2 separate regions of the Homo sapiens genome follow, and region 1 is linked to region 2. The links come from fine-mapping of genetic effects on gene expression. A gene starts in region 2. The other region holds a variant in brackets. All regions are shown on one strand. Distances are from middle to middle.

Region 1 (4,408 bases), 43 kb after region 2:
TGGTCACTCTTCCAAGGAACTAACAACATCAAGGAGAGCTGCCTGGGTCTGTTAGAGTCAGCACCCACCCCCTCATAACTCTCATGTAGCAGCAACAACTGTCATGTTCAACAATGGGATGACTACTTGCTCAGTGAAGTGAGATGTTTGCCCTTTTCCCTCTTCTTTTTCCTCACTGCTATTGACTAAATCAGTATCTTCATATCTTCCTCAAATTCATATATTAAAACCTAACCTCCAATGGGACAGTGTTAGGAGGTTGGTTTTTGGAGGTGATTAGGTCATGAGCATGGAGCCCTCATAAATAGGATTTGTGCCTTTATAAAAGAGACCCCAGAGCACAGAGACTCCCTTTCACCATGTGAAGATGCAGAGAAGATGCCACCTCTGAACCAGGAAATGGGCTCTCACCAGACATCAAATCTAGTAGAGCTTTTATCTCAGACATCCCAGCTTTCAGAACTGTTGTTTAAAGCCACCCAGTTGATGATATTCTGTTATAGCAGCCTGAACACAGTAAGACACTCACCCCCAAGAAGGAGGAGCTGATGTTCTGAAGATGGACGAGAAAGGGGAAGTAAAGAGCAGGGCACGCCACTCCACCTCCTTCCCCCAAGTGAGATGAATCAAGGGGAGATGCAGGCAGAACCTGGAGCAGGAGAAAACTTGGTCCATGTTCCAGATCAAAGTTTCAAAATTATTAGTACTATTTTAAATATCCAAATGAAGGAGTTCTAAATCAGAAAGGAGCAGACAACTTGTGGACTCTTTAAGGAGGCCTCTTCTTCTCTATGAGATCTCATAGAACACAGGTAGAGACAGTTAACTGAAAACATAAGTTTTGTGTTGAGTTGAGACTTCATAATATAACTGTTATATGTGTATGATGTGATATTATATATATATATATATGTATATATGTATCCACACAGTTTAGCATATCCGAAGTACTGTTTGAATGATGGAGATACTAAGCAGTAAAAAGTGCAAAATGGATGCATTGAACAATTTTGTAATAAGAAAATAGAAATTCAGTTTAACATCTTGCCTCTGCACCACACACACACACTCACAGAGTTTCTCTCTCTTCTTTTATGCTTGAACACATGGATTAGCACTTCTTTTCATAGAATTAATATAATTCCATGTGAATTATATGAAAGAACTTCCTATAGAAAGGATTTTAGGTCACACATAAAGGAAGAAATTCTTTTTGCATCTTAGCTAACAGAATGCTACACATTTCTCCAGTCCTACACTTGCTCTATCATGAAATAGAGTGCTTTTTAAAACGTTGACTTCTATTTTGTGTTTTTACAAAATACTTTCACTTATCTGTTATCCATGTTTGTATTAAACCTGCTCTGTGAATAAACTTTGCAATAATAAGGGCCACATATATAACAGCTAAGTCTAGTGACTCATACAGATTCATGTCTGAATAGGAACTTGATAAGAGTTGATTGGTGATGACGAGGCCATGTCAATGAGCTCAAAGAAAGCTTAGCAGCCAGGACAGAAATTATTCTTATGGTCAGTTACACTTTTCTCTGAAGTTTAGTAAACTATGCAATGAACATTTCCTCCCCAGGATTTGAGTCTGGAATTGGGATTTTGGTTGAAGATTACAGTGGGGGTTCCATAACTCTTGGCTTCTGGTGAGGACAGAAAGTTTCTTTAAAAAGTTCCTTGAATAACCAGATTATTTTGGAATGCCTGAAACTCTGACTGCTCAGGAATATTTCAAGGCCACAAGTATTTTTCATGTACCATATGTTAAACATTACATTTTATAGGTTACATATAAGTGAAAGACATATTTTCTACTTTCAAAGAATTATAGACTCTTAGAGAGAAAGATACACAGCTGCATGCACTCAGAGACAGAAACAGTAGCAAAGTTAGCAGTTTCCTCAATAAGGTATCTAGAATCCTAGCACCAAGAGATAGGAAAAACAACACCAAATTAAAACTTGGGGGTCCATGGAACACATTTTGAGAACTATTGGGGGAAATAATTGGATGTTGTGCACTAAGTGGTAAAGTTAGTATTACAGACAGAAGTATAGGAAGGAAGAGGGGAAAGAAATGATTAGGGTCTGGACAAATGAGGGAGGGTTTTGTGCAACAGATGTGGTTTAAGCTAGGCTTGGAAAGATGGGTAGCATTTGGAGAGGAGGGAAGGAAGAATATGTTTCTGACAGTCAGATGGCACAATGTCT[T/C]AGGCGAGTAAGAAATAAAATTAAGATCCAGATATACAAAGAAGCTCTGTAAGAGTGGAGGTTTGTGGTGAAGAACCTCTGAGACATGGGATGAGTGTACAACGAAGGATAAACAGGCTGTATAGTAAAAGGGTGTGAATGCCAGGCAGAAGCATCTGGCAAGATTAAAAAGGGGATTTAAAATTATTTAGATTAAAGTTCTTTTTGAATAATCTTAATGCGTTTTATTACTTGGAAGTCTAGTGTTCCTTCAGATGTTAACATATGCCTTCTCAAAAGTTGTACAATGACCATACGAAGTGAGATAATAGGTTTCTTTACTCTGGGATGTTCCAGTCTTTTACACTAAATAACACTGCTTTTTAAAAGGGGGGAATGTAATATTTCATTAAAGAACTCCCATCCTACTTTTTTGTTTTTGTGAAAGAACACTTGTTGGCATTTGTCACTTTATGTAATTTAATTTGGGAAATGCTCTACTAAATATTTACCAGCTATGCTCTGGAGACTTGTAGTCCTGGCTTATGTTAATTTGGGCAACAAGGAGGAACAGGTGAGAATTATCCCTCTTTGGAGTGACTTTGTTTCTTTGTCAAATAATATAAATATTAGAAAATGAGATGGTCAATTTTTATTGAAACTGATGTTCAATAAAAATTACTGTAGACCAAAATTTGCTGACATCTGAGACCACATACCAAGTTGAAAATTAGTGTTTAAGAAGAAAACAACATCCATTTATCCAATTTTAATTAATAATCTGAGTTATAGTAAGCTGTTAAGATTTTTACATTAATTTGCAGAATTTTATTACTATTACTAGTGTTAGAATTTTTTATGTTTACTGGCCTTTTGCCTTTTAAAGAATTTTTTATTTTAGAATAGTTTTTGATTTACAGAAAAATTGCAAAGATAGTACAAGGAGTTTCCATATGACCAACACCCAACGTTTCCTATTATTAACATGTTAAAATAAGTGTGGTACATTTGTCACAGTTAATGAACCAATACTGATAAATTATTATTAATTAAAGTCCATACTTTATTCAGATTTCCTTAGGGTTCATCTGGTGTCCTTTTTTCTGTTCCTGGATCTCATCTAGGTTAGATATTTCATTCATTTTCTCAGGCTTTTCTTGGTTTTGGTGATCTTGATAGTCGTGGAGAGTGCTGGTCAGGTTTTTAAAGAATGTTCAGTTGGAATTTGTTCAGTATTTTCTCCACAATTAGATTATGGTTATGTGTCTTGGAAAGGAAGATAACAGAAGTAATGCTTCATTTTTATATCATTCTGTAAAGAGTACATGCTATCAACATGACTTTTCATTGTTGAAGTTAAACTTGATCCCTGGATGAGGTGCTGATTGCTAGGTTTCTCCACTATATAGTTACTCTTTTTCCCTACTTTCCACACTGTACTCTTTGGAAAGAAGTCATTCAGCTCACATTTACCAGGTGAGGAGTTACACTCTACTTCCTTGAGAATGAAGTATCTACATACAGCATTTGAAATTCCTCTCATGGAAGATTTGGCTTAGTCCTTATTTATTTATTCAATCATTTATGTATATCAGTGTGGACTCATAGGTATTTATTTTATAATTTGATTATATAATCTAATACCACTTTATTTTGTTGCTCAAATTGTTCCAGCTTTGGTCATTGAAATTGGCTCTTGAGTCCCATTGACATACTCATATTGAGGTCTTTTTTATTTTTATTTTTATTTTTTGAGTACTTTCTGGCAATGTAAGATGATCCAGGCTCACCTTGTGTTTTTTTTCTGCCCCAGTGCTATAATTAGCTGTTTCTTCAAGGAGCTCTGGTTCGTTTTATTGGAAAATGGTATTAGCAATATCTGGGAGCCAAGAGAGCTAAGTGTGTTCACTGCTCCAGGGATGTCATTGTTTCTAGGACCTCTCAGCTGACAGACCAAGGAAATATATGTGGGTATGCTATCCTGTGTATTTCCACATCTATAAATATTTCCATATGCAACCATTTGTATCTGAATCAAGCTAAACACGAGTTCATACTGGTGCCCATGACTCTAATCCATTACCACATGGATGATTCTAGTCTCCTTCCCTTGCTTATTTCTAAATTCCCACTCTCAACAATAAGAAACTTGGCTCCCATCACCCATCATCTATTTACTTAATATTTCAATTCTCATATACATGTAT
Region 2 (4,408 bases):
TCATATTGTCACCCAGACTGGAATGCAGTGACATGATCTTGGCTCACTGCAGCCTTGACTGTCTGGGCTCAAGTGATCCTCCTGCCTCAGTTCCCAAGTAGCTGGAACTACAGGCATGAGCCACCATGCCTGGCTAATTGTTTTGGTCTTGTTTTATAGAGAGGGGATTTTGGGGTTTTGCCATGTTACTCAGGCTGGTCTCTATCTCCTGAGCTCAAGCAATCTGCATGCCTCGGCCTTCCAAAATGCTGGGATTACAGGTGTGAGCTGCTGCGCCCAGCCTAATTTGAGCTTTCAAGTCTTATTATTGTAGAAGTACATTTGGTAAAGCTATAGCTGCCATAGATAGTGATTCTTCTGCTGGCTTTGGGCAAAGTAAATTAAAAACCTTTTGGAAAGGATTTGCTATTCTGGATGCCATTATGAACATTTGTGATTTATAGAAGGAGGTCAAAATATCAACATTAACAGGAGTTTGGAAGTTGACTTCAACCCTCCTGGATAACTCGAGGGGTTCAAAACTTCAGTGGAGGAAATGACTTCCATGTGGTGGAAATACAAGAGAAATAGAATTACAAGTGAAGCCTGAAGATGAGACTGAATTGCTGCAATCTCATGATAATACTTGAATGGATAAGAAGTTGCTTCCTATGGACGAGCAAAGTGGTTTCTTGAGATGATATCTACTCCTGGTGAAGATGCTGTGAACATTGTTAAAATGGAAACAAACAATTTAGAATACTACAAAACCTTAGTTGATAAAGCAGTGGCAGGGTTTAAGAGGATCAATTCCAATTTGGAAAGAAGATCTACTGTGGATCAAATGCTATCAAACAGCATTGCATAAAACAGAGAAATCTTTTGTGAAAGATTGTTGTTGTCTTATTTTAAGAAGTTGCCACAGCCACTCCAACCTTCAGCAACTACCACCCTGATCTGTCAGCAGCTATTAACATGGAGGGAAGACCCCTTTTAAACAAAAAGATTACGACTTTCTGAAGGCTAAGGAGATAGTTAGCATTTTTTAGCAGTAAAATATTTTAAAATTAAAATATGTGCATTTTATAAAGACATAACAGTACTGCACATTTAATAGACTATAGTATAGTATAAACATAACTTTTATGCAATGGGAAACAAAAAATTCATGTGACTGTTTATTGTAATATTTGCTTTATTGCAGGAGTCTGGAACTAAACTCACAATATCTTTGAGGTATGCCTGTATTCAGTGTTGGCACTGGCAAAAGTGCAATAAAACAGGCACTCATATACTAGTAGAAGTGTAAGTTATACAATTTGTGTTAAAAGCAAATGACAATTTTTTTCAAGAGCTTTAAATTTGTAAAAATTCTTACCTCATCAATTTTACCCAAATAAATTTATGCTAAACAACCAGATATATGTACACTGATTTTTAAGCAAGAATATTAATTATGGCATTATTTTACCAAATATTTTAAATTATGAACATCTAGCAATCCAGAAAGAATAAAGTAAAATACAACATGGCTATCAGTAGGTTTTTTAATACACACATTAAATTTATGTTTTTCAGAAATAATGGTATGGGAAATGATTCATGTTATAAGTTTGACTGAAAAAACCAAGATACTAAATAAATGCAATATATTTTTGTATATGAGAGCATATTAATCAGATTCAGTAATGATATCTGCTCTAACAAACAACTCTTAAATTTCAATCTTCATTGCTTAACACAATAAAGGCTTATTTTTTCCCATGACATCATCTAATGCAGGGTGGTCGTGGTTGTTAATTTCTCTGTAACTCTGACAAGCTCAGTGTAGTGCTTCCAGATTGCTCTGGGGCCATGCAGCTAGCAGTTGAGGCAGGAAGAAACATAGCACAGACAGGGCAGGCTCTGTCTCAATTGACTTGGTGCGTAAATGATGCATCACTTTTGCTCACAATTATTGTCAAAAGCTAGGCACTTGTTCCCTTTTCCCTTAAATTCAAGAGTCTGGGCAATCTGGTTTTGTGAGCCATGGAGCATCTCTGCCATTATACACTGGAAGAAAATACACAAAATTATTAACATCTCTAGTGAGATTTTTCATGATTTTATTTTCAACTTCTTGCTATTATTTTCTGAATTTTCTAAAATAAATGTAAATTAAGTTCATAATGAGACCAAAACTATAAAAATTAAAAACGTGGTACTTTATGCACGCAAGCTGCTTTCCTCCCTCAGGAGGTGCAGACAGCTTGGGGAACTCACTATAGTGTACATTTCAATATAACCTTATATATCGTAACAGGTTCCTTAGGTGCTTGCCAAAGTGATAGAAAATACACTGAGCACAGCATGAGGAGGAACTTTCTCTATGCATGGGTGATTTGGATATAATATTTATCAATGCTGATTACCTGGATTGCTTTGGCTGATCTGGCTAGCCTGGAGGGTTTTTCCATTCTTCCCTTACTGTTGCATATGTTTTCTTTCTGAAACCTTTTCTCTGTCAAAGAGAACAACATTTTCTACTAGCAGAAGGGGGAAAGCAACAAAGCAAAAGTTCTCCTTTTCAAAAAAGCTAAAAAATCGCATTTTTGTTACCAAGCTATTCTTTAGCTTGGTAAAGACAGATGTAAGTTGGACATTCATCTTATGCAATGTAGATGAAATCTAACTGATGATTTAATAAGAACTAATAGTAATAGCTCTATGCAGGCATGCAGCATGCAGCGTGTTCACTGCCCTTTAAAGAATAAATAAGTCCTGTGAGAAAACTGTGACTGCTCTTATCCTACAAACTTGGTTCCACATTTTACCTCTAACCTCTGGTTTGGACAATGAATAGTAGAGACATGTCCACTGCTCAGGTCCTTTTCAATGCCCACCATTGGCTTCAAAGTTCAAGCCTTTCATTTTCTTGCCCCATACATATTTTCAGATTCGCTGCATGCCACTTTCTTGCACTTGTCCTGTTAAAGAGTCCACCATGGCTATTTAATATTTAAAGGCTGAGATCATTTTGCGGGTTTTAGTTTAAAGGTAACCATAGCACACACACACACATTTATTATTAATAGCAGAGACACACTGTAAGTCCTTGGGAATCTTCTTTCCTTTTGATGTTAGTTTCACAGGAGTGCTGCCATCACTAGAATTGGCTCTGATATTGCTATCTGGCAAGTGGACTAGTGCAGTAACAACGGGTCCAGAATGCTGTAAACTGTTCATATGGGTGGAGGTGACCATGCTTAAAAGGGAGATGAAGCCAGAAAGTGACAGGCCACGGAAAGTCCGGTTTCGGATCGCGTCCTCTCACAGTGGGCGAGTTCTGAAGGAAGTGTATGAAGATGGGCAACCGTCAGGCTCTCTGGATTCTGAATGTGCCAGTATCTGTGGGATAGATGGACTAGGTGATTCCGATGGACAGCAGAATGGCCACATAGAGTCAGAAGGTGATGAGAATGAGAATGACCAGGATAGCTTGCTGGTGTTAGCAAGGGCTGCCAGTGAGAAGGGTTTTGGTACAAGAAGAGTCAACATTTTAAGCAAAAATGGCACAGTCAGAGGCGTCAAATACAAAGTGAGTGCTGGCCAGGCTCTATTTAACAATTTGACCAAAGTATTACAGGTAAGTCATTGCTGTTTCCTTCTCCTGCTCTTTGTTCCTAACTCACCATCTGAACACCTCTCAGTTCTCCAGTTAAAGCAAGCCTCTCTTATTTGCAACTCCTACATGCTTCATGAGACGCTCCTCCACCTAAGATACTGTCCTAACAGCTATCAATTAAAAACTGGGTCATTGTGCTTGGGAAAATAGACTGAGTTCTCAAAGCCAAATTTCTAACACATAAGTGGTCTTTTTTTCCTTCCAGTGTGTGATGACTAATATAACCTGTCTACTTCTTTGCTAAGGAAAAAGATAAAACTATGCTGTTCAAAGCATTTGAGCAAAGATTAAAAGTTAAATTCTGGTTTATTATCCTTGAAATACCAGTGTAGCATTTATCATTACTTATGTAGATATTTACACCAGAAAATGTTGAGTGCATGAATTCAGCGAGGTTGGGTTCAACTGGAAGGTTGTGCAGCAATAAAGACTAACTTCGACTTCCTCCCATTCCTGAGGAGGTTGCAGGCTTCATTCAATATCAATTTCTCTATTAAATTGCCCATAAAAATTCTAGGATGATGCTTGAAAAAATTACTCCTCTATAAATGTACAGACTGAGATCTAGATTTTGTATAATAATTTTTAACATTTATTACTTTAAATGTGATAGATTCTGCAGAGTAATATAGAAATATATTATTCAGGTATTGGGGCTTTTGACAATGATCTAATGTTAACAAGTTTTTGAAAGCATTGGTAAAGTGATTTGTTTTTTTGTTAAAAACAGATATCATTATGTCGGGAATGGAATTTATGATTGCT

Direction of the effects. Alleles are on the strand shown, and positions count from the first base shown. SD is a standard deviation of normalised expression in the study named.
For the expression in testis of the gene that starts at base 2,667 in region 2, allele C in region 1 goes with a higher level than allele T (large effect, 0.86 SD a copy in GTEx).

The links. PIP is the estimated chance that this variant, and not a neighbour inherited with it, causes the effect. A credible set is the group of variants that fine-mapping cannot tell apart.
Region 1: its variant is the best candidate, but not a certain one, in a credible set for the expression of GRXCR1 in testis (GTEx, PIP 0.83).

The regions. Positions count from the first base shown.
Region 1 is chr4:42,933,346-42,937,753 of GRCh38, forward strand. All of the region lies in intron 1 of GRXCR1 (glutaredoxin and cysteine rich domain containing 1), which reads left to right. Among named protein-coding and RNA genes, the nearest start is that of GRXCR1, 43 kb to the left of the region's middle. The variant T/C (reference allele first, on the strand shown) is at 2,223.
Region 2 is chr4:42,890,047-42,894,454 of GRCh38, forward strand. GRXCR1 (glutaredoxin and cysteine rich domain containing 1) reads left to right here and starts at 2,667. Exons shown (of 4, transcript NM_001080476.3): 1 at 2,667-3,604. The coding sequence starts at 3,221. It also overlaps the pseudogene RN7SKP82.